Linked DNA regions of Homo sapiens: regions 1, 2, 3 and 5 are each linked to region 4. The links come from fine-mapping of genetic effects on gene expression. A gene starts in region 4. Each other region holds a variant in brackets. All regions are shown on one strand. Distances are from middle to middle.

Region 1 (4,770 bases), 110 kb before region 4:
ATCACAGCAGCCACAAGAAACTAACACCCCGGCTATGCTCAGCCGCATGAGAGGACAGGAATCAGTCAACCGATGGGCCATCAAATGGCAGGGAGGGAGGGACCCTATTCAGCCCGGCTGACCGTGAGGAGAGGAGCTGAAGAGGGAAATGCAGGATGGCACTGAGCTCAGGAAAGCATGAGGCGAATCCCAGAGCAGGGGGTAGGTTTACGGTGGAACACTCAAGGTGGGTGGAAGGATGCTGAAGGCAAGGCTGCGGGCAGCTGAAGGACAGTCAAGAGGAGACACAGCCCAGGAAGGGCTGGGGTCGGGGGAGCAAAACGGAGGGTGAGCAGATCAACTCCACTTCCAGACGTGTCTCGGCAAAGCTCAACCATCCAAGAGCAGGAGCGGGGGAACCAGCAAGGTGCTCTGGGCAGGTGCGTGTGTGCAGAGGTGTGCAGGACAGGGAGTGTGTGTGGTGTGTGTAGGTGTGGTGGGTGAGCGTTTGAGTGTGTGCAAGACTTTATGAGGGGCCCGGCGCGGTGGCTCATGCCTGTAATCCCAGCACTTTGGGAGGCCGAGGTGCGTGGATCACTTGAGGTCAGGAGTTTGAGACCAGCTTGGTCAACATGGTGAAACCCTGTCTCTACTAAAAATACAAAAATTAGCCGGGCGTGGTGGCACATGCCTGTAATCCCAGCTACACGGGAGGCTGAGGCAAGAGAATCGCTTGAACCCAGGAGGCAGAGGTTGCAGTGAGCCAAGATCATGCCATTGCACTCCAGCTTGGGTGACAAGAGCGAGACTCTGTCTCAAAAAAAAAAAAAAAAAGTTTATGAGGGAGAGTGTGCAAGTGTACAGGTGCATGTGCAAATGTATAAGCGGGTGAATGTGTGTGTGTATGTGTGCACAGGCACCCAGGAGAGGGGAATACAGAATCAAGGTTAGAGGAGGCCAAAAGCAGTGACTTACGCCTGTAAACCCAGCGCTTTGGGAGGCTGAGGCAGGAGGATTGCTTGAGGCTAGAAGTTCAAGATCTGCCTGAGTAACATAGCAAGACCCTGTCTCCACAAAAAAATTAAAAATTAGGCAAAGCACCCTGGCTCATGCCCGTAATCCTAGTACTTTGGGAAGCCAAAGCCAGAGGATCACTTGAGCTCAGGAGTTTGAGACCAGCCTGGGCAACACAGTGAGACTTCAACTCTATTTAAAATAATTATGGCCGGGTGCGGTGGCTCACGCCTGTAATCCCAACACTTTGAGAGGCTGAGGCAGAAAGATCACTTGAGTCCAGGAGTTTGCGACCAGCCTGGGCAACATGGCAAAACCCCACCTCTATAAAAAAGAAAATACAAAAAGTAGCCGAGCATGATGGTGCCTACCTGTTAGTCCCAGCTACTCGGGAGGCTGAGGTAGGAGGATTGCTTGAGCCTGGTTGGTTGAGGCTGCAGTGAGCTGTGATCGTGCCACTGGACTCCAGCCTGGGTGACAGACGAGACCCTGTCTCAAACAACAACAAGAAAAAATATTCGCTTTTCCTTACCTTGAATGCCACTGGGTGAAAATGGTGGTCAGAGTTCCTCAGATCAACTCAGTTGAAATAGAAATGTTCCAGGGGGCTCCTAAGACACGTCACTGAGAGTGGGAATTCCAAGTTTCCCAAAAGCCCTCCTGCCGCTTCCCAATACCCACCTCCTCCACCTTCCACCTCATTCTAAAGCCCAGGCTCATACCCAGAGGGTGCTAGGCCCAGTGGCCCCACACACTCCTCCTCCTCACTGGCCTCCTTCAGAGGCCCAAGTGACAGCTGGGCAGTGCTTGTGGGTGATCTCAGCATGAGCACCCACGTTTTTAGCTGCAGAAGAGAGGAGCTTGAACTAGATGATTGCAAAGATGAGGGACAGCTCCAACATAATGCTGCTGGCTGTACACTGACAAAGTGCCTTGAAGATCACGGGCTTGATGTCACCATGAAGTGATGCTGAGTGGAGGCCAGCATCCACTGGCCCCGTGCCAGAAGAGGAACAGAGCCTCCTGCACTCCACTCTGCCGGGTCCAGAGCTTCGGAGCCTCTCTGCCACAGCCAGGGCTGACCCCACCCCCTTTCCCATCCTGACCCAGGCCTCCAGGACCCCAG[C/T]TCCAGATCAAGTGGCAAAATCCATTGTTTAAAAGGAAAAGGTGGGCCGGGCATGGTGGCTCATGCCTGTAATCCCAACACTATGGGAGGCTGAGGCAGGTGGATCACCTGAGGTCAGGAGTTCGAGACCAGCCTGGCCAACATGGCGAAACCCCATCTCTACTAAAAAATACAAAAATTAGCTGGACGAGGTGGCAGGCGCCTGTAATTCCAGCTACTCAGGAGGCTGAGGCAGGAGAATCGCTTGAACCCGGGAGGTGGAGGTTGCAGTAAGCCAAGATTGCGCCATTGCACTCCAGCCTGGGAAACAGAGCAAGACTCCATCTCAAAAAAAAAAAGAAAAAGAAAAAGAAAAAAAAAAAGAAAACATGGGCCAGGTGCGGTGGCTCACGCTTGTAATCCCAGCACTTTGGGAGGCCGAGGCGGGTGGATCACTTGAGCTGAGTTCAAGAGCTCAGGAGTTCAAGACCAGCCTGGCTAAGATAGTGAAACCCCGTCTCTACTAAAAATACAAAAATTAGCTGGGCATGGTGGCGGGAGCCTGTAATCCCAGCTACTTGGGAGGCTGAGGCAGAGAACTGCTTGAACTTGGGAGGCGAAGGTTGCAGTGAGCTGAGATCACGCCACTGCACTTTAGCCTGGGTGACAGAGTGAGACTCCATCTCAAAATAAATAAATAAATAAATAAAAGATGGCCAGGCACGGTGGCTCACGCCTGTAATCCAAGCGGTTTGGGAGGCCCAGGCAGGTGGATCACTTGACGTCAGGAGTTCAAGATCAGCCTGGTCAATATGGTGAAATCCCATCTCTACTAAAAATACAAAAATTAGCTGGGTGTGGTGGCATGCACCTGTAGTCCTAGCTCCTCTGGAGGCTGAGGCCAGAGAATTGCTTGAACCCAAGAGGCGGAGGTTGCAATGAGTGGGGATCATGCCACTGCACTCCAGCCTGGGCAACAAAGCAAGAGTCTGTCTCAAGGAAAAAAAAAAGAAAAAAAAAAAAGGACGACCAGCATTTTGATCTAGGCTGGCATTGGTCCACATGCTCCTTCTCTCAGGAGAAGGGGATAATTGTGATGTTTCTGATTCACTGAATTTATTGAGGGTCTCCTCTGTGCAAAGTGGTCTCACTCCTTATTTATACCTAATCAAAGGACCATTTGAGCACCCCCTAAATGATGCTCACCTTAACCCCATGAAGTAGCCATTTCTTGAGTGCTGCAGTGAAATCGAGGCCTGGAAAAGTTACACCTTTGCTCAGGGTGACATCTAAGAAGTGGGGGGATGTAATGTGAACCCAAGCTTCTCTGTCCCCAAGGCCCCTCTCGGCAGCATAGGGAGAGGATCATCATGTTGGCAGCCTGTGCCCACACCGCATGGCTTCCTACTCTGCTCCTAGAAAAGGGGCCCTCACAGCTGGCCCCTGGCCAGGAAGCCTGCTCCCAATAGCAGCAGATGCCCCAGGAATGGCGACCTCCTTGGCAGGGTACCGGAGGTTAAGGGCAGAATGGTTTCTGCTAGCAAGGCAGCCCTGGGGCAGGTGCCAGATGGACCTGAGAGCATGCCAACTGCTCTGGAGTGATTTCCTCCTGATTGCCTCCTGCATGGCAAGGACCTGCCCTCTCTACCTTAATAAAATTGGATCCCCATCCTACAAAACTAGACATAGAGAGAGACGCTGTCATCCAAGGGGAGACTGAATCTTGGATTCTAGAAAAGAAGAGTTGGGACTGCAAAGTCAATTCCCTTTATGCACCCCCGACTCCAACTTTCCCTCCCCACACTGCGCCCTCCATCCCCCACCCTTCATAACCTAAGGACAGACAGTTGATTTTTGTTAACAGAGTAAGTGGTTCCAGTAACCACCTTTCAACACAGCCCGGAGGAAAAAGGGAACTTCTCTGCCTGGCATCTTTCCCACTGTGGTGCCCCAGGGGAAGCTGTCCCTTGAGACACTGTGGAGAGCCCCAGGCTGCCCACCTGCAGAGCACTCCAGAGGCCTCTGGACTCCCCCAGCTGCTGAGGTTGGGTAGAGCCTTTGCTATCCCCTCTCCTGCAAGCCCAGAGGAGGCAGCTCAGAGCAGAAGGGAACCTCTGTCCTTTCAGAGCTTGGCCCCAGGTTAGGGCAAAGGGGATCCAAGTCTCTCCTTTCAGAGCAGGGCTCACCTGGGCCAAGCACTCTGGGGCCCTCTGGGACAACCCTTGCCATTTGCCCTCCCCTACAGGAGGGACTCACAGTGGCTGCCGAGCTCTTGCCTGTCCCATCTATCCAACAGCATGGGACCTGGCAATTATGGCAAGCTAGGAAGTTATTAAAAGGTAAAGTCTATTTTTAGGAAATCAACAGCAAACTGAGGACAAGGTAGGAGAAAACAATATCTGCCTTCTGGGACTTTGCAGCTTCTGATGCATGTGATTGAGCCTCAAGATGTAAGCAGCCCACCCCAGTGAAGTGGGGGAAGAGGCAGCCCTCCACCCACCAGGCATCCCCGGAGCAGAGCCTGCTGGGAGGTGACCTCTGGGAGAAGAAGAAGTGCCAAGGGAAGTCTGCAGTGGCCCAAGGGAAGGGGGCACAGAAGGAAAGCATCTAAAAATGGAAGTCTTAGAACATAAATTATTCAAAAACAGGATTATTTAACTGGAAGTTAAAAA
Region 2 (4,770 bases), 30 kb after region 4:
CCAAGCTGTGAGACAGGCAGGTTCTTAGGATCAGGGCAAGGGTTAGCAGACAACGGCCGGGCCACATCTGATCCCCCACCTGCCTGTGCCAATCCAGCGTGGCAGTAGTAGCAACACTCACCCATTTTCCTGTGGTCTGTGCCTCTTTGTGCCGCAGTGGCCGAGGTGAGTCACTGCAGCAGAGACCACACAGCCCCCCAAATCTAAGTAGTATCTGGCTGTTTGCAGAAAAAGGTTGCAGTCCCTGGACAGAGGCTAGAGGGGGCTGGACACAACTGCCAGCCCTTGAAGGTCCCTGGGGACAGAGGCTGCTCAGGCAGATGGATCTGGAGGGCCTCTTAGAACAAGAAAGACCAGGCCTCCGGCTGGGGGTGAAACTGCCACTGCCACCCACGTCCAGAGCTGGGACCTTGGCAGTGGGGAGGGAAAATCCCTTCCCCTTATTTTCAGAGAGTAGACCCTCTGCTGCCCATCCTTCCCCCACTGGATCTTTGGAGGTCTCTAGACCACCAACCCACACTTGGCTGTTCTGTGGGACCGAGACTGTGCCCGAGGTGCTGCTCCTGGGACGAGGGAAGACTCCTCGACTCCTCTGCATGCTGCAGTTACCACTTTGTGCCCTGAATTGAGAAGGAGGGGCCGGAGGACTTCTTGGGGCAGGACTGGAGTTCACGTTCATTCCCATCACTGCCCAGCCCGCATGCTCCCTGTGGCTCCTAGGCATGCCGGTGGCATCTGCTTGCTCCCCCACACCTCTGCCCCCCTGCATGTGGTTGCCCCTCGCAGCACTGCGTGGGGTCTCCGCGGCTCCACATCACGCTGTCCTCACACGGTGATGCTTGGGGTTGCAGAGGCTGGTCAGTTTGGCTTTGGCTCTTCATCTTCAGCACGATGGTTCTCATGGGGGTGGGGAGCGCTGGCAGCTGTGAGACAGTTCTGGTCCCAGCCAAGTCCAGGGAACCGCCCTAGAATCATCAGTATGAAAAATAACATGCCTGTTGTTATCAAACCACTAAAACCACAGGCCAGCTAGCAGGGTGCTCTCTCTCCGCCTGTCAGGTTCCACCCTCCCGGCCTCCATGCCTCTGATGCCTTTCCCAGCTCTCAGGGTCCAGTCGAGTTGCAGCTACAAGCTGCACGTCCCCTAACTTTAAATTTACTAGCTCAGCCAACAGATCTGCATCTAGAACCTGAAGCTTTAGTGGTTGCCAGTTCCAGCACTCCCCAGGAGCTTCAGTTCACAGGCTCTCATGACAATTAGGAAGTGGGACTGGAAGCAGAAGGCCCCCAATTAGTTCCCCGACATGCTGAAGTGGTCAGTCTCATCCTTGAACTACTCACAGATCAAATTCCTTCCGCCTGGGGCCAGAAAGCGGTCAGGTCTGTAAATCCAGAGGCAGCTGCTGCTTAAGATCCTGCTTGCCACTGTCTGCCCGCCTCCTCAGCTCTCCCCTCGGGCCGGAGTTTCACACACTTCATGCCTCTGGTGGCGTCCCTGGGTTCCGCTGAAGCTGCTGTGGGAAGTGCCACCTCCAGTTTCACAGTGTGGCTAGGACAGTGGGCTTGCAGGCTGGTGACAGCTCCCCTGAGCAAGAGGCCTCCTCCTCCTCCCCCAGAGCTAGGGAAGCTGGCAGGGCTTGGCTGGCTTCACAGCTTGGCAGGAGAAAGAACAGGCGCGGCTGTCAGCTCCTCTCCATCACTTCTTCCCACCTTGTGGTCTCAGAGGGAAAATGAACCCAGGCTATAGACTGGGCTGGCTCTGATAGATCAGGACCCACCCCTCCATTTGAGGTCTGCAGGGCTGTCTTGACTCCTCTGGAAATGGACATGACTCTAGAGGAAGGTGCTAGTGTGGTAAAACAGGGAAGGGGAGGAGGAGGCCAAGGAACCCCAGCTGTGGGGTAGTTCTGGTTCTTCCATCTGATGTATGCAAGAAACTACAGACAATAGACCTGCCAGTGTGAATTTCCAGCTCAGGCTGGAAATGCGTGCTGACTGTGACCACCAGGAGAGGGCGTCAGAGGGACAAGATCAGACCTGCTGGGTTCTCAGTGGTCCCAGGGCTGGCAGTGTGTCTTGGTTCATAAAAGACGGGCATGCAGTTGGCTCCATCTGGAAGCGTGCATCCTAGGGTGCCAGTATCCCCCGAGGGGACAAAACTCAGCCAGCGGGAATGGGAAATTATCTAGGGTGATAGGAATATTGTCAGCACAACCACACAACCCAAGATCAGAAAGGCCCTTGGCAACTCAAATGCCCAAGTTCCTTCCTTAAGTACCCTGCAGAGGCTGAACAGGGTCTGTGGGCTGCCAGGTTCTGTGCGGGATCAAGGGGAGCTCTGCAAGCTCTGGCC[G/A]GCTTGGCGGCACAGACTGTCTTGCTGCAAGCGATGAGAAGCAAATCAGCAGTGGTTTGAGAAACCAGAGTCTAGCGCAGCTTCTGCAATTCCAAACATTCTCCTTCCTCGTCCCCATTTCCCCCTTTCCTTGCCCATGGTGCAGGATGGAATGAGTAAAATAAATTATCTTTTTCTCCCCATTTCTCTTTACAGAACTGAAGAATAACGAAGTTATCCTTAGCGTCCTCCTAAAGGCTTTTCCTTTTGGCATCTTAAAAGCTTGAGAGATAAAACGGAAACCCCAGAGAGGAGTCTGGGCAGGCTCCCAGGGTGCATGCTGCCTCCATAAATCTGCTGAGCTCTAGACCCTCAATCAGGACTTGTCCCTTGGCTAGCAGGATCCTGGGAACACCTTTGGCCCTGCCCTGTGTAGAGATGTTCATGTCTGTTCCTGTGGGTCACTTTGTTAAGCTGAAGAGTTTTAAGAGGTAGAGCTCAGACCCTGGACTGGGATTTTTCTTACCACTCAAACTTGCTATCCACACACCCTGCACACCTTAGATAAAAAGAACATTTTAAAAGCAGAGTTCACTTTCACTCCAGTCTCCCCTCTTTTGCCCTCACTGAAGCCAAACCACAGAAGACTTTGAGGAATGAGAGACAAATGAGGTAGAGCTCACCTGTGCTCACCAGCTCCGTCAGGGTGGTCAGCCGACCCCTTTCCCTGGGAACCCCACTTCTCTCTGTGGCTGGCTTGGTTGTCGGGGGTGAGATGCCATATTGATTACAGGGCAGCAAAGAACCAGTACCAGGAATTTACTTGACCATTCCCCTTATTTTTCATCTAGAGGAATCTCGGATTCAGCCCTTTCATTGCTAAGACACCTTTTCACTGAGGTTCTTACCAGCTCAGCCAAATCTCCACTCTGCTATAGCAGAAGCAATAATGTTTGCTTTAAAAAGATTTCTTGACCTATGCCTTTTCTTAGAAAGTTTGATAGATTAGTTAGAACTTCAGATCATCAGATCAGTCTCAAATGGGTTTCTTGGAATTTTATATTTGACAATATTTATACTATACCAAACTCATTTGCAGTTCTTAGGTTTGTTGGTTAAAACATTTTTTTAAAGCAGTAAGTTTATAGAAAATGTTTTCATTTAATGGAAGGCTGGGGAATGTCCAGCATCAACCCCTATGGCATGCATTCCCAGGGGCCTTCTCATCTGGGCCTGGAACCTTTGGTTCAGGGCTTAGGGGAGAACAGGCCACATGGCAACAGCCACACAGTCATTGCCTTCAACACAGAGCCACGTGTCCCCAAACAGCAATAGTCATGCCCTTGTCCAGGCTGGGATCTAATTGACACAATAGGTCGTTGACTCCCTCCTAGTAGAGCTATCTAGGTTTGTCTGGAAAGTTTCCGACCCTGGCTTATAGGCACCACACCTCATGTACTCCTCATGGCTTGGATCTCTGTATTCAGCCTTTGTTCAGTCCAATAAACTTTGAGTAGATGATCTCAATTACTGTGTGTTTTTTCAGTTTGCTTTGTTTTAAAACAAAATCCCTTTTGAACCCATTGAAGTTTGACCTTTCTTTCATTTTGATGCCTCTTACTCTGCAGCAGAGTACAAAGCCATACATCCACCCTGTTAAAAAATATGCAGTCACCATGGCTGTCAAAACCACATGACATGATCTGTGTTCACTCAGGGACATATGGATTGTGCTTCCATCCACAGAGCTCAGCACATCCTTTCTGTTCACGGGAATTCCTCTTCTTCTTCTTTTTTTTTTTTTTTTTGAGACAGGGCCTCCCTCTGTTGCCCAAGCTGGAGTGCAGTGGTGCAATCACAGCTCACTGTGGCCTGGACCTCGTGGGCTTAAGTGATCCTCCCGTCTCAGCCTCCCAGGTAGCTGGGACTACAGGTGCTCACCACCACACCTGGCTAATTGTTTTATAGAGACAGAGTCTGACTATGTTGCTCAGGCTGGTCTTGAACTCCTGGGCTCAAGTGATCTTCCCATCTTGGCCTCCTAAAGTTCTAGGATTACAGGCATGAGCCACTGCACCTGACCCTCTTTCTTCTTACAGGAGGGCACAAAGCACACATCATAGGCTGCTGCTTCACCAGACAGGGGAACCGACTGTAGACACAGCTTTCCCAGGGGACAAGGGAGGCTGGGAAGTGGGACTTCAGTATTTCAACTACTAGATGCTGCTCTAGACAGAAAATTTTGCAGGATGGAAGATGCGGGGCTGAGGAGAGGAGGGAAGGGTGAAGCAAAGGAATATGGTAGCAAAAGTATGGGAGCGAACGTGGAGACCACCCCTCCAGGCAGTGTGGGGGATGCCAGTGGCCCAGGGCTATGCTGAGGTCCTGCGGTTGCAGAGCCTGTAACGTGCTTACAGCCGACCCAGCTGCAGAGCAGG
Region 3 (4,770 bases), 100 kb before region 4:
AACCGACTCACCCTATAAAGATAACAGGAAAATTCATCTAAATTCCAGCAAGGGCAGCTTAAGTTGGATGGCAGCTACGTCTTTCTGATGGCAAACACTGAGGATGGGAGAATCTATTCCTTGAATGCAGGTGAGGGACAAATGACCTCCAGAATCAACCTGATAACTCCCATACTAAGTTCACGTAGAAAAGCAAAGGGGCTGGACTCAATGGCTCTTGCATGTGATTCTTGCAATTTGAGAAGCCGAGGCAGAAGGATGACTTGAGCTCAGGAGTTCGAGATCAGCCTGGGCAACATAGTGAGAACCCATTTCTTAAAAAAAAAAAAAAAAAAAAAAAAAAAAAAATATATATATATATATATATATATATATATATATATATATATATAATTAGCTGTGCATGGTGGTGCACACCTGGCACACCTGCAGTCTCAGCAACTTGGGATACTGAGGTGGGATAATTGCTTGAGCCTGGGAGGTTGATATGGTTTGGATTTCTGTCCCCACCCAAATCTCCTGTAGAACTATAATCCCCAGTGTTGAGGGAGGGGCCTGGTGTGAGGTGACTGGGTCATGGGGGTGGACTTCCTCCTGGCTGTTGTTGTGCCAGTGAGTTTTCATGAGATCTGGTTGTTTAAAAGTATGTAGCCCCTCCCCCCTCTCTTCCTCCTGCTCCAGATATGGAACTTCAACTTCCACCATGATTGTAAGTTTCCTGAGGCCTTCCCAGCCATGCCTTCTGTACAGCCTGCAGAACCGTGAGCCAATTAAACCTGTTTTCTTTATAAATTACACAGTTGCAGGTATTTCTTTATAGCAGTGTGAGAATGGACTAATACAGAGATCGAGGCTACAGCGAGCTGTGATTGCACCAGTGCACTCCAGCCTGGACAATAAGCAAGACCCTATCTCAAAAAAAAAAAAAAAGAAAGAGAAAAGAAAAGGGGATTGCAGCAGTCACTGAGGGCTAGAGGAAAATGTCATTGAATGACTACAAGCAGCAAAACTCCCCAATAATAAGGGCCACTGAAAAGACGACAATGGTAAAGGCACAAATGACAGTGGACTAAAGTCTCTCCTGTGCACACAACTTTCCACTCTCCAGGCTCCTCTTAGCAACCTGAGGCAGCATTAAGTGTTGTTGTTGTTGAGACGGAGTCTTGCTCTGTCATCCAGGCTGGAGTGCAGTGGCGTATTTTCAGCTCACTGCAACCTCCACCTCCCAGGTTCAAGCGATTCTCCTGCCTCAGCCTCTCGAGTAGCTGGGATTACAGGCATGCGCCACCACACCCGGCTAATTTTTGTATTTTTAGTAGAGACGGGGTTTCACCATGTTGGCCAGGCTGGTCTCAAACTCCTGACCTCTGGTGATCCACCTGCCTTGGCCTCCCAAATTGCTGGGATTATAGGCATGAGCCACCGCACCTGGTCTAAGTGGTTTTGATGTAAAAAAATGTATATACATATATATATACCTGTTCTACTGCAGGAATTCTAGTGCTGAAGAAAAAAAAAAGGACTCTTAGTTCAAAATGAATTTATATATTTAACTGTGACTTTCTAGGCTTCCTGTTAGATGTTTTCTTCTGAGGTCAAAGGCAACAAGAGCTAAATGAATCTCATTCTTACTAGAGTTTATTTGCTGTTATATTTTTTGGCAAAACCACTTTCAAAACAGTAATATCTGGAAAGGTTTTCAATTTTCCCTGAATTGAGTTCTCAGTGCCTTTCAAAGAGGAAATGACAGATAAGGACAGTGTATGAACTCAGGGATTTAAATAGGAACATCAGATACCTCCATGCCACCCCAGAGAAGAATTGAGGAGGGGTGTCAGGAGAGCGCAGCAGAGCCTCATTTGAAAGGCTGCATTGAAGTTCAAATTGCATTTTAATTTACTATGCCAGTTCAATTCCTCTTCCGTCCCAGCCCTGGGGGTTAGCCACACAAAAAGGAGGCACACTTCACAGTAACTCCCTCACAATACAGAAAATCCGATTGCAAGAGCGGGTCGCCCTCTGCAGGGCACGAAAGGATGTGAGCCTGGTCTCCGAGCCCTGAGGTTTCTTTCATGCAAGACTTCAAAAACAGCACAGTGATTCCTACACACTTCAAGAGACCATTTCCGCCTGGAATTTGTTAATTTGGTAAGCCATGAAGGATTAGAAGGCCAGAGGGCCATGGCTAAAACTTTTGCCTAGGCATTTGGAATTCATCTGAAGCTACTAGCTAAGGGTTGGTGGTGTTTGGTTGACTAGGGACATAGAAACAGTGGTGAGCATGGGTCCTGCAGGGACTCCACCTGGGTGAGAATCAGAGCATTTTCTTTTCTTTTTTTTTTTTCAGACAGCGTTTTGCTCTGTTGCCCGGGCTGGAGTGCAATGGCGCGATCTCAGCTCACTGCAACCTCTGCCTCCCAGGTTCAAGTGATTCTCCTGCCTCAGCCTCCCTAGTAGCTGGGATTACAGGCATGTGCCACCATGCCCAGCTGATTTTGTATTTTTTGTACAGACTGGGTTTCTCCATGTTGGTCAGGCTGGTCTCGAACTCCCAACCTCAGGTGATCCGCCCACCTTGGCCTCCCAAAGTGCTGGGAGTACAGGCGTGAGCCACTGCACCCAGCCGAATGAGAGCATTTTCCTTCCTTCCTTTCTTTTTCTGTCTTCCTTCCTTCTTCCTTCTCTCCCTCTCTCCCTCCCTTCCTTCCTTCCTGTCTT[CCTTT/T]TCTTTCTTTTCCTTCCTTCTCTCCTTCCCTCCCTCCCTTCCCTTCCTCCCTTCTTTTTTTTTGAGATGGAGTTTTGCTCTGTCGCCCAGGCTGGAGTGCACTGGCACAATCTCGGCTCACTGCAACCTCCGCCTCCCAGGTTCAAGCCATTCTCCTGCCTCAGCCTCCCGAGTAGCTGGGATTACAGGCGCGCACCACCATGCCCAACTAATTTTTGTATTTTTTTTAGTAGAGACAGGGTTTCACCATGTTGGCCAGGCTGGTCTCGAACTCCTGACCTCACGATCCACCCACCTCGGCCTTCCAAAGTGCTGGGATGGATCTTGTTCTGCTGCCCAGGCTGGAGTGCAGTGGCACAATCATAACTCACTGTAACCTTGAACTCCTAGGCTCAAGCAATCCTCCCATCTCAACCTCCTGGGTAGCTGGGACTACAGGTGCATGCCACCATGCCCAGCTAATTTTTATTTTATTTTTTGTAGAGATGGGGGTCTTGCTATGTTGCTCAGGCTGGTCTTGAACTCCTGGCCTCAAGCAATCCTCCCGCTTTTGCCTCCCAAAGTTCTGGGATTACAGATGTGAGCCACCACACCAGGCCCAGAATATTTCTTGACTAACAGACACCCTGGAAGCCATCATGGCCAAACCTTTATTTTCAGATGAGGATATTTGGTCCAGAGTGTCTATGACTTGCCTGCAGATGCCCACATGGGACCAGAATCTAGGTTTCTCTGTTGTCATCCTTCCTCAGACCCTGACAGGGCAAGCAACAAACTGGAGGAAAGAGGAAACCTTGGGAGAGAAAACCTGCCCAGGGGTCGGGCATCCTGGAGCTTGGCCTGGCCTTGTTTGACATAGGACTTTGCTAGGAGCTGAAAGCCCAGCTCGAATGTCTCATAAGAAAGTTGTGTTGTTTTATCCGGGCAAATCCTGGCTTGTTCCGGGTGTGCAGACTGTGCACAGCCAGTGTTGCTGAAGCTCTGTGTGATGCTGTGTTGGATTGGAGGTTCTGGGAGGGCACAGCTCTGTGGCTTTTGCTCTCTGGTGTATTCCTTTCCTCTACCCTACAGTAGGAGCTGGGGATTTGCAGAATTTATCCCAATAAGGAGGCATGCTTTAAACATTTTTCATACAGTTGGGGTGATTTTTACACTGATCTTTCTTGCCTGCTCCTCCTTATAACAAATAATTTAGTAGACAACTGGCCAAAGTTATAGGTGCTAGGTGAAGCTGTCTGGGAATGACACTGGGTACCTACTGAGTGAGCCAATACTGACAATGCTAGCATTTCTTGTGGTCCGCAGTCTTCATTAAAAGTAAAATTTTGCTGGGGTGTAGTGGCTCACGCTTGTAATCCCAGCACTTCAGGAGACTGAGGCAGGTGGATTCCTTAAGGCCGGGAGTTCAAGACCAGCCTGGGCAACATGATGAAACCTTGTCTCCACAAAAAATACAAAAATTAACTGGCATGATGGTGCACACCTGTAGTCCCAGCTTCTTGGGAGGCTGATGTGGGAAGATCGCTTGAGCCTGGGAGGCAGAGGTTGCAGTGAGCCAAGATCACACCACTGCACTCCAGCTTGGGCAACAAAGCAAGACTTTGTCTCACAAAAAATAAAAAAAATAAAAAATAAAATTTTGCCCAGCACAGCGGCTCACACCTGTCATTTCAGGACTTCGGGAGGACCATGTGGGCAAATTGCTTGAGCTCAGGGGTTACCAACCCGGGCAACATGGCAAAACTCTTTTTTTTCCGAGATGGAGTCTTGCTCTGTCGCTCAGGCTGGAGTGCAATGGCGTGATCTCAGCTCACTGCAACTTCCGCCTCCCGGGTTTAAGTGATGCTCCTGTCTCAGCCTCTGAAGTAGCTGGGATTACAGGCGTGCACCACCACCCCCAGCCAATTCTTTGTATTTTTAGTAGAAACGAAGTTTCACCATGTTGGCCAGGCTGGTCTCGAACTCCTGACCTCCTGATCTGCCCACCTCGGCCTCCCAAAGTGCTTGGATTACAGGCATGAGCCACTGCGCCAGGCCTGGCAAAACCC
Region 4 (4,770 bases):
AAGTAGCAAAACTAAGGATCTGTGGGAAGGTTGCTGGTGCAAATGCTTTATAAGCTTACTAGAGACTGAGCCTTGGATTTAGGACTTTAGACGAGTATAGGATGGAACAAAATTTTTGCAGTAAATGTAAAAAATGCTGTGTAGGAGGAAGGCGTATAAGGATGCCCCAGCTGTAGGTTCTTTAGATTGTCTGTAGTATTTCCACGAGTAAGTTGTTTTTGATGTGTGTACTGGTATTGCTGGTAGATTTGAAGTGGAGTCTGGCGGCTTCTTCCACACTCCCCTCCCACTAGCTTGTGTCAAGATGTGACATCCTATGCAGCAAAACTAGGTGAGCTTGCACCCCCAGGCGGTGGCTCTCAACTTTGTCTCATTGTTCAGAAATTTCGGCCAGGCGCCGTAGCTCACCCCTGTAATCCCAGCACTTTGGGAGGCCATGGCAGGTGGATCACTTGAGGTCAGGAGTTCAAGACCAGCCTGGCCAACACGGTGAAACCCCGTCTCTACTAAAAATACAAAAATTAGCCAGGTGTGGTGGCACATGCCTGTAGTCCCAGCTACTTGGTCAACTCAGGCAGGAGAATCACTTGAACCCAGGAGGCAGAGGTTGCAGTGAGCTGAGATCAAGCCACTCCAGCCTGGGTGACAGACCGAGACTCTGTCTTTAAAAAAAAAGAAATGTCATCTAAGCCCCAGTGAACCTCCTGGGAGGAGAGCTAGCCCTGGCCAGCTGTCTCCAAAGTGACTGGATGCTACAGAAGAACTGGGACTGTCTTCTGCACACTCGTGCCTCCTGGAGTTGTCAGAACACTGAGCAGTCTCCTAGTTCTGCGTCCGTCTAGCCATGGGGTCTGCCATGAAAGCCTGTGGATCTGCTATTGGGTTGGTATTTTAAACTTTCACTTGGGTGAAACTTGTTCATCATTTTAAATAAAGCAACATGATTTGGAGTTGTGTTTTTGGCATTGTTTTGTCCTTATTTTCTTTCTTACTCATTTGAAAGTCAACAATGTACTTTGTCAGCAGAACAGGACTTTAAAAAAATGTATTTACACTTTAAAACAATGGGATGGAGCACAAAATTAAGGCCCTGGGCCAGGAGCATTGATGCACACCTGTAATCCCAGCTGCCCAAGAGGCTAAGGCAGGAGGATCACTTGAGCCCAGGATGTCGAGGCTGCAGAAAGCTATGATCATGCCTGTGAATAGCCACTGCACTCCAGCCTGGGCAACATAGTGAGACCCTGTCTCTTTAAAAAAAAAAAAAGAAAGAAAGACCCTGTCTCTTTAAAAAAAAAAAAAAAAAATTGGCTGGGCGCGGAGGCTCACGCCTGTAATCCCAACACTTTGGGAGGCTGAGGCAGGCAGATTGCCTGAGGTCAGGAGTTCAAGACCAGTCTGGCCAACACGGTGAAACCCTGTCTACTAAAAACAGAAAAAAATTAGCCGGGCATGGTGGTGGGCGCCTGTAATCCCAGCTACTCAGGAGGCTGAGGTGGGAGTTTCGCTTGAACCCGGGAGGTGGAGGTTGCAGTGAGCCGCGATTGCGCCACTGCACTCCAGCCTGGGCAACAGAATAAGACTCCATCTCAAAAGAAAAAAAATAGGCCCATACACTGGCTGAAACTTCCACAGTGGTTAAAAGCTAGTCGCCCGTAGATAAAGCCTATTTCACATTTTATAGTTTATAGGCTCTTTTCATCAACCACCACTAAAAGGAAGTGCATGGCCCGCTTAATATCGTGCAGTGCAGCAGAATTCAGCTCTCCCTGTTGCTGAGGGGTCTCGTTTGTGTATCTTCATTTAAAAAGAAGCACTCCATCTAATATCTGGTTTATATCACAGATCAGCTCAGGCACTGTAATATTCCCAAAAAAGTATTAAAGGCATCCTCAGCAAAAACTGGAACCGTGTTTTTTTTAACATTAGGCCTTATGTTTGGCGTGATACCTGACATGCCCGTCCTGTGTTTATTTAAAATAACTAAAGAGTGGGTGGGGAGTGGTAGGAAAGTATGTTTTTGGTTACAACGTGTTTATCTCAAAATCCACTGTTCAGCAACAGAGGCCTGGGAGGATCTGGAGAAACAAAAACAATAGCCTTCATTTCCTTCATTGTACCCTCCCACCCTGCATGCATTCTGGAATTGTGCAAAGAAGAAAGTCTGGTAAGAGGAATAGCGTTGACCAAGGACCTGCAGCTGAATTTCAGGTCTAGGGGCGGGGGAGCCATGTTACTGTTAACAGGGAGGCCTGTGTTGAAGGCTGCTGGCCTCAGCTCCGAAGGGAGCATTCACTGGCCGGGATCTGGAGATGTCCTCTGTGAAAGTGCATTAAGGCAACCCTGAGGATTAAAAGCAACTCCTGACATGCCTATAAAAACGGCAGTGGCTGAACGTAATCCGGCATTATGATTGCTTTACAAGCCAATCCAGGCTGCCGTTTCCATGAAGCTTCCCGGGTTTGCTTGTCTCTCTGCATTCCCACATTTCCAAAATGCTCTAAGACGAACCGCCGTACTAAGGCCAAAGATGACAACCTAAGGGCACCTCATACAGTATTTCAAATTGAACCTGAGCTAAATTGTGCCCCAAAGCGTCAAGGCTGCCCAGGCCGGGCAGGGGTTGGCCCTCCTGTGCCTCCCAGGTGGTCAGGGCTCTGCCCCCTCAACACCCCCGCCCGCAGCCTGTGCGTCACCCTCCCGGGGCCGGAGGGGGCGGGGGCGGGGCGCGGCGATGGGGGCTCCGCCCCGAGGCGGGGCGCGGCGACCGGGCGCGGCGACGGGGCGCGGCGGGCTCCCTCGGGGTCCCAGCTGGCCCGCACTCGGCGGCCGCGGCGCGATGGAGGCGCCGGCCGAGCTACTGGCCGCGCTGCCTGCGCTGGCCACCGCGCTGGCCCTTCTGCTCGCCTGGCTACTGGTGCGGCGTGGGGCGGCCGCGAGCCCGGAGCCTGCCCGCGCGCCCCCGGAACCCGCGCCCCCGGCCGAGGCCACCGGGGCCCCGGCGCCGTCCCGCCCCTGCGCCCCCGAGCCGGCGGCCTCGCCCGCGGGGCCGGAGGAGCCTGGAGAGCCCGCGGGGCTGGGGGAGCTCGGGGAGCCTGCGGGACCGGGGGAGCCCGAAGGGCCAGGGGATCCCGCGGCGGCGCCAGCGGAGGCGGAGGAGCAGGCGGTGGAGGCGAGGCAGGTACGCACCGGGGCCCTCGCGGCCCCCTCCCCACCCCCGGGGCTCCGGCTGCCGCTGCCGTTCCCCGCCGAGCCAGGGAGCGGGGCCGCGGCCTCCAGCCCAGGCTGCCCCCAGGAAGCGCAGAACCCGCGGCCCGCAGGAAATGCAGGTCCCGCCATGCTAAGCCGCAGCCCCGCAAACTCGCCGCCCTCCCCCAGAAAGTGTGGCGAGGGGCGAGCCCGAAGGAGTTTGTTTGGAGGTGTTTTGCTCTCCCCTCCCCTCGGCCTCTCCCAGCCCAGGGCGTGCTCCGCAGCTGCTGGCTCCCAGGCCTCGGGACCAGGGCTTGGAATTTTGCTCCTCACCCACTTCTGACCCCTCCCGCCCACCGGTTCCCAAATCCACGTGCCTGTGGCTTATTTCCAGGCCTGCCATGAGAGTTATCTTGATGTTTAAAAAGTAGGACTTTCGGGGGGCGAGGGAGGAAAGCTGGCTTTTCTTTTTCAGCCAATTTGAAGTCCAGATTTCAGAGTCAGTGCTGTGGCGTTTTGTGAAGCCCGTGGGCTGGGACTGAAAGAAAAGGCACCCGATCCCAGCAGTCCTTTTTATTGTCGTTTTCAAGCTACACATCTAACACCCTCCTACCCCCACTCCCCCGGGTTGTAGGTAAGCTGGGCCTGGATGGAGTGAAGATGCAGGATAAAGCCCTCCTGGAGCACCAGTGAGCACCCCAAAGCGGCCCTCCCTGCCTCTGCCCCAGGCCTCCCGCCATGCTGTCCATCAGCTCGGCCTTGGCCACCTTGTCCTGCCTGTGGATATCTGAGAGGAGTCGGATTTCCCTCATCCACTCATCCCAGCCCCTACACTGTGTGCCCATGTTCCCTGGAGTTCACCACGCTTGGCCGGTCCAGGCCACCGCCAGGGTCTCCGAGTCGGATTGTAATCCCTTGTTCTTACCCCTGAGCTCCTTTTCTTGGAAGGGAGGAGAGCCGGGATGCGCATTGTCAGCGTGCCTGCGTGTCTGCGTGCCCACTCTGTCCTGTGCTGGACACAATGGTTTACCCTGGAGAGAAGCCCTTCGGGGGAGGAGGAGGCAGCCAGGCTGTGCTCAGAGGCATTTCTCTTTGCTGAGTAAGTGCGCCAGACCCCCTCTGAGCAGGCGCTTTGCTTGACAAGTGGGTGACTAATTGTGTCATTAGAGAGGATTCTAACCAGCCACATTTAATGGGGTGGAGCAGGGGCAGGCCCTGCCGTTCTTGCTTGGGGTGGGCTTCCAGACCTCACGCGGTGATGGTGGAGGGGGCGCGGTTTGGACATGTGCTGATCTGTTGTGTTTGCTCCCATATTTGGGATTCCTGCCTCCATCGAGGTCTCGCGGGAGCAGGAGAGGCCTTTAGACAGTTCTGGAGCCGTCATGCACACTCAGTCAGTCCTGGCCTTACAGGGCTGGCCCTTTATCACCCACACCAGGCTCTGGACTGAAGTGCAAAATGTCCTTTAGCGGCGCCCTGTCTTAGCTCAATCCTGTGGGGCACAGCGCTTAAAGAACTTTCTACAAGGCTTTCGGCTCTCAGCACATGGTACCTACAGGAATAGGTTCAGTGGTGTTTAAA
Region 5 (4,770 bases), 960 kb after region 4:
CGGCGTCGGAGGAGCGCCCGCTGCTGGCCGACAGGCGCGGGATGAGCTCCGGGGGCAGCCGCCACGTGACGCGCCGCAGGTCCAGCTCCTCCCCCAGCAGGGGCTCGAACTTCCAGCCGCAGCCTTGGGAACAACGAAGGGCCGCGTTGGCACCGCCGGGGGGCGCCGGGCCGAGCAGGGCCAGGCGGGGGAAGGCCGTAGGCTCTGCGAGGGGAGCCCGTCTCCAGCTCCCGGGATCCCGGGGTGTGTGTTGGGGGCGGGGGTAGATGCGCACGGCCGGAGCGGGAAGGCCGCGGCAGGTGAAACCCTTGCGCGGCTGAAGCCTTTCCAGATGAGCGAGTGCAGCCTCGGCACAGCTGGGGAGGAGAGACCCCCGGACCCGCCAGAAACCTGGGGGAAGTCTGGGCTCTGTCACCAGCTGTGAGGTCTCCCTTGCTTTACTTAACCTCTCCGAGACTCAGTTTCCCGTTTGTACAATGGAGAGAGGAATCTTGCCCCTGCCCGCCTCCCAGGGACCGTTCCGCAAGCCACCGAGCGCTTCGCAGGTAGTGTTAGAAGCAGCTGAGCTGGGGTTCCAGAGTCACACCAGCTGCGCTCCACCTGAACCCCTCAAAATGGCTCCTTAAGCCCAAGCTGAGCCCCGTGGGGGCCAGTATGTGTTCACCGGGGGCAGCTTGAGGCATCGGCAGGGACAGAAGAAAATACAAAAGATATACGTGCCCCAGAGGTTTTTCCACTCATGGTACTGTGTGATTGGTATCCCATTATACAGAGCAGAAAAGTGAGGCATGGAAAGGATGAGTGATTCATCTGATGTCCCACAGGTGGAGCCACAGCTGACACTGAGCACTCAGGAGGCCCAGCTAAGGGCTCCGCAGCACTTTGTGCTGGGAATCAAGGAGGAAGGACAGAGCTGTTGGGGGTGTTCTTGTCTCCTTGGCTCCCCTACCCCTGCCAGGTGGCCGCCTGGTGGCTGCCCAGGGCTCCTGGGCCAGGCCTGCCCCTGGGGGGTGGCCTGAGTGTCCTGTGTGCATGGCACAGCTGGTGAACCTTCAACTTGTGAAGCTGTGTTTCTTCGTGGTCCCGTGGGCATGAACTCATGTGCGCTTGCACAAGGCTGTGTGTGTCTGTCCCCCAGGCACTGGTTCCTGTGCCCCATGCACAGATGTGCACTCCATTGCATTTGTCCAAGGCTGCCTTAACCTCCATGTCCTCTAGTTGCTGGCCCCTTTGCCCTCTCTGGACCCAGTGGACTCACTCTGTACCCAAGACCCCCACTGTCCTCTTGTGGGTCCCAGGTCTCCACTCACCAGTGTCATCGGAGACGCTGGGCCTCTGGCTGCCCGATGGAGAGCGTAGAACGTCATCGCTGTACATAAGGAAGCTGTCGTAGTCCTCCCCGCTCTGGGCGTCCACGATAGGGATGTCAGGGATGATGGGGACTGCAGGGCAGGGGAGTGAGCCAGGGCCCTGGCTGCTGCCCCCTGCCCCCCTGCCCGGTCTGCCCCTCACCTCCCTGCCCACCACTCACTGGACATGGGCCTCTTGGGCTGGGTGGCCAGGTTGATGATGGCCTCCCGCTCAGGCCCCCAGCCGGCCCCGTTGCGCGCCTTCACCGTGTAGCGGTAGGGCTGGGACTCCCGAAGGTTCTCAATAAGCAGCATCCGGTTCTTAGGGTTGTCAACCAGCACTTTCTTCATGGGCCCAATAGGTCCTGGGGCAGAGAGAGTGCTTCAGAGGGTCACCCAGGTCCCAGCCTGGTCCCAACACCACCCCTGACACAGCAGGACGGCCGTGCATCCCCTGGATGGCACCCAGGGGCTGGGGAAGCAAGGCAAAGCCAGCCACTGCTGAATTGCCGCCTGCGGAGCCCTGAGCGTCAGCATGACTGGCGTGGACATATGTCACCAGTCCTCCAAGGGACTCTGCTGAGTAAGTGGCAGAGCCAGGGCTGGACTCAAGTTGGCCTCGATGTCACCTCTACCCATATATCCACGGTGCCTCCACACAAGGCAAGGGCACGCATAGGGGTTGCCCACCCTGCCTCCCTTCCAGGACTGGAGAAATAACTGTTCTGCTAGGCACCTCTGATCTCGGGCTGCTAGA[T/C]AAAATAATGTATAAAATAATCCTTTTTATTTATTTATTTTTAGACGGAGTCTGGCTCTGTCACCCTGTCTGGAGTGCGGTAACACGATCTCGGTTCACTGCAACCTGCGCCTTCTGGGTTCAAGTGATTCTCCTGCCTCAGCCTCCTGACTAGCTGGGACTACAGGCATGAGCCACCATGCCTGTCTAATTTTTAGTAGAAACGGTTTCACCATGTTAGCCAGGCTGGTCTTGAACTCCTGACCTCAAGCAGTCCACCTGCCTCGGCCTCTCAATGTACAAAATAATCTTTTAAAGTGCTATCTGAAATTCAGAACCTCCTGTATTTCTGTTTGCTAAATCCGGTAACTTTCCTCTCACCCTAAGAAAACCATGCACGTGTGAGCTCCCTGGTTACCTGCATGGGGAGGGGTACCCCTGGGCCTGTGACCTCACTCCACATAGGTAACCACCCACCCTGCAACCTTCTGGGTTTGGTCTTAGAATGCAACCCAGCCCAAATCTGGCCAAAACCCTAAAGATGCCTCAGGCTTATCCGCTGACCAGGATGAAGGCCTCGAGTGCCCTGCACAGCAGGTCCAGGGAGTGACCAAGAGCTCCCTCCAGCTTTGTCCCCTCCCCTTCCATGGCTGTTCTCCCTGTGGGCAGGAAAGAAGGATCTGGTTCTTACGGTTGTCATCGTTGACCAGGCCATAGCAGACCTCGTAGGCTGTGATCTCACCGTTGGTCTCAGCCGGCTCAGCCCAGCTCAGCTGGGTCACCGTGGAGGAGACGACATTGAAGGCCAGACGCCCTGGCTCGCTGGGCACTAGGGAGCGGGGAATACAGGAAGAGTGCTGTCAGTGGCAGAGGGAGGGAGGTCTGGGCATGCTGGCATCAGGGCAGCCAGGGGACAAATGGACAGACATGGCGAGGCCTCACCTTCCTGGTGGGTGCGGCAGGACACCAGGGAGCTGTAGGGTCCCTCGCCCTGAGCCCCGTAGGCGCACACCTTCATCTCATAGTCGCAATACGGGTACAGGTTGGTGAGCTCCACTGAGGGCACCTTGCTGTCGAGCAGGTGGGCTTCGGATTCGGAGTCACCCTGAATCCAGTACTTTACCTACCCCCAGGGACAGGGGTCCTGGTCAGCAGGGAGCAGCAGGCACCCAAGCTGCCTGTCCCTCCTCTGACCTCTGCCCTTACTGTCCTCTTTGCACAGATGAGGCCCGAGGGAGGGGCTGAGAGATCTGCCATGTGCACACGTCAGGACTAGGGCAGAGCAGGTGGGGGTATCTCCCATGCGGGGGTGGGAGGGGGCCCCATTCTAGGAAGGAGGGCAAATGTCTGATAAACTCAGGAATGGGTCTTCCCTCTTTCCCAGCACAGACCGGGTTTCCCTCTGACCACCTGTGCTAGGTTCCACTGTCTGCTCTCTCTCAGGGGGCCCTGGCCTTGGACGGCCCACCTCTTCTGTGAGTGCTGGTGCCAGACCGCCCATCCACCTGTCGTGACCCTCAGCCCCCCGCCTTACCCTGTACCCCATTGGCTTGCCAGAAGGGGGCAGCCAGTTGAAATGGATCTTCCTGGACCCAGCGGCCTTAGCATTGGGGTTCTGCGGGGCGCCCAGGTCGCCGTGAGGGGGTGGCTGTGATGACAACATCTGACTCGTGAAGCTCCGGTCCAGTTCATCTAACGGGTCAGGTTGGGGCCGGGCAACCACTCAGATCCCCCTTCACCACCAGGGGGCGCCAGAGACCCACTTCAACACCCAGGGCGCTCTACCCAGCGCATTCAACTCAGACCTGCCCACCCGCGTCTCTGGAGACCTGGTGGTGCCCCATTGCTGCCACATAGAGCATCCTGCCAAGCTTGGCGGAGGACCCAGGAGGGTCTCTGGAGGAACAGAAGCGGGAGGGAGTTGGTCTGCCCCTTTCTCCCTTGGCAGCTCAGGGAACATTCCACATGAGAACATTTGCTCCCCACCCCATCTCCACACTGTACCCTGAGTATCTCCCTCCTCTCCCATCTTCCTGGCAGGCTTTCTCCCAGTTGGGAGGCTGAGGGCTGATAGGAACTAACTGGCCCACTCCTTCCTTCCACAAGCATCTGCATGTTAGTTGGAATTGAGGCTGAAGCCAAAGGGCCAGGGTCTGATGGGAGAATTCCTATTGTGTGGTGACAACAGCCTCTCTAGCTGTAGGGTTGCCAGATAAAATGCAGGATGCCTAGTTACATTTGAATTTCAGATAAACAACAAGATTATTTTTTCTTGGGGGACAGGATCTCATTCCATGGCCCAGGTGCTGTGCAGTGGTGCGATCACAGCTTGCTGCGGCCCAGACCCCCTGGGCTCAAGTGATCCTCCCACCTCAGTCTCCGGAATAGCTGGGACTGCAGGTGCACACCACTATGCCAAGCTAATTTGTTTATTTTTTGTAGAGACGAGGTCTCACTATGTTGCCCAGGCTGGTCTAGAACTCCTGGGCTCAAGTGATCCTCCCACCTTGGCCTCCCAAAATGCTGGGATTACAGGTGTGAGCCAGTATACCCAGCCCATTTTGCAAAAAAAAGGATAAGTATGTTCCAAATATTGCATGGGACATACTTATCCTACCAACGTGTATGTTGTTTACCTGAAATTCAGATTTACCTGGGCGTCCTGTGTTTGGATTTGCTAAGTCT

Direction of the effects. Positions count from the first base shown, and alleles are read on the strand shown. Sizes are in standard deviations (SD) of each study's normalised expression. Not every link is listed here.
For the expression in monocytes of the gene that starts at base 2,821 in region 4, allele C in region 5 goes with a lower level than allele T (large effect, 1.8 SD a copy in Fairfax 2014).

What was found.
Region 1: its variant is fine-mapped to the expression of MXRA7 in blood mononuclear cells (TOPMed, PIP 0.97).
Region 2: its variant is fine-mapped to the expression of MXRA7 in whole blood (TOPMed, PIP above 0.99). The same link has a PIP of 0.9 or more in atrial appendage, caudate, cerebellar hemisphere, cerebellum, cerebral cortex and coronary artery.
Region 3: its variant is fine-mapped to the expression of MXRA7 in whole blood (TOPMed, PIP 0.98).
Region 5: its variant is fine-mapped to the expression of MXRA7 in monocytes (Fairfax 2014, PIP 0.95).

What each region holds. Positions count from the first base shown.
Region 1 is chr17:76,819,576-76,824,345 of GRCh38, reverse strand. It overlaps LOC107985089 (a long non-coding RNA gene), which reads right to left and starts at 1,406. Exons shown (of 4, transcript XR_001753021.2): 1 at 1,365-1,406. The variant C/T (reference allele first, on the strand shown) is at 2,120.
Region 2 is chr17:76,678,658-76,683,427 of GRCh38, reverse strand. It overlaps MXRA7 (matrix remodeling associated 7), which reads left to right. Exons shown (of 4, transcript NM_198530.4): 4 at 2,549-3,862. The coding sequence ends at 2,561. Among named protein-coding and RNA genes, the nearest start is that of MXRA7, 30 kb to the left of the region's middle. RefSeq lists an enhancer at 453-999. The variant G/A (reference allele first, on the strand shown) is at 2,354.
Region 3 is chr17:76,813,970-76,818,739 of GRCh38, reverse strand. No RefSeq gene overlaps it. Among named protein-coding and RNA genes, the nearest start is that of LINC02080, 17 kb to the right of the region's middle. The variant CCTTT/T (reference allele first, on the strand shown) is at 2,719.
Region 4 is chr17:76,709,016-76,713,785 of GRCh38, reverse strand. It overlaps MXRA7 (matrix remodeling associated 7), which reads left to right and starts at 2,821. Exons shown (of 4, transcript NM_198530.4): 1 at 2,821-3,181. The coding sequence starts at 2,840. It also overlaps a transcript of JMJD6 not described here. RefSeq lists a silencer at 2,590-2,799.
Region 5 is chr17:75,749,118-75,753,887 of GRCh38, reverse strand. It overlaps ITGB4 (integrin subunit beta 4), which reads right to left. Exons shown (of 40, transcript NM_000213.5): 28 at 3,620-3,777; 29 at 3,028-3,208; 30 at 2,777-2,914; 31 at 1,532-1,714; 32 at 1,311-1,442; 33 at 1-123. It also overlaps a transcript of GALK1 not described here. Among named protein-coding and RNA genes, the nearest start is that of GALK1, 14 kb to the left of the region's middle. RefSeq lists an enhancer at 1-121 and a silencer at 1-318. The variant T/C (reference allele first, on the strand shown) is at 2,107.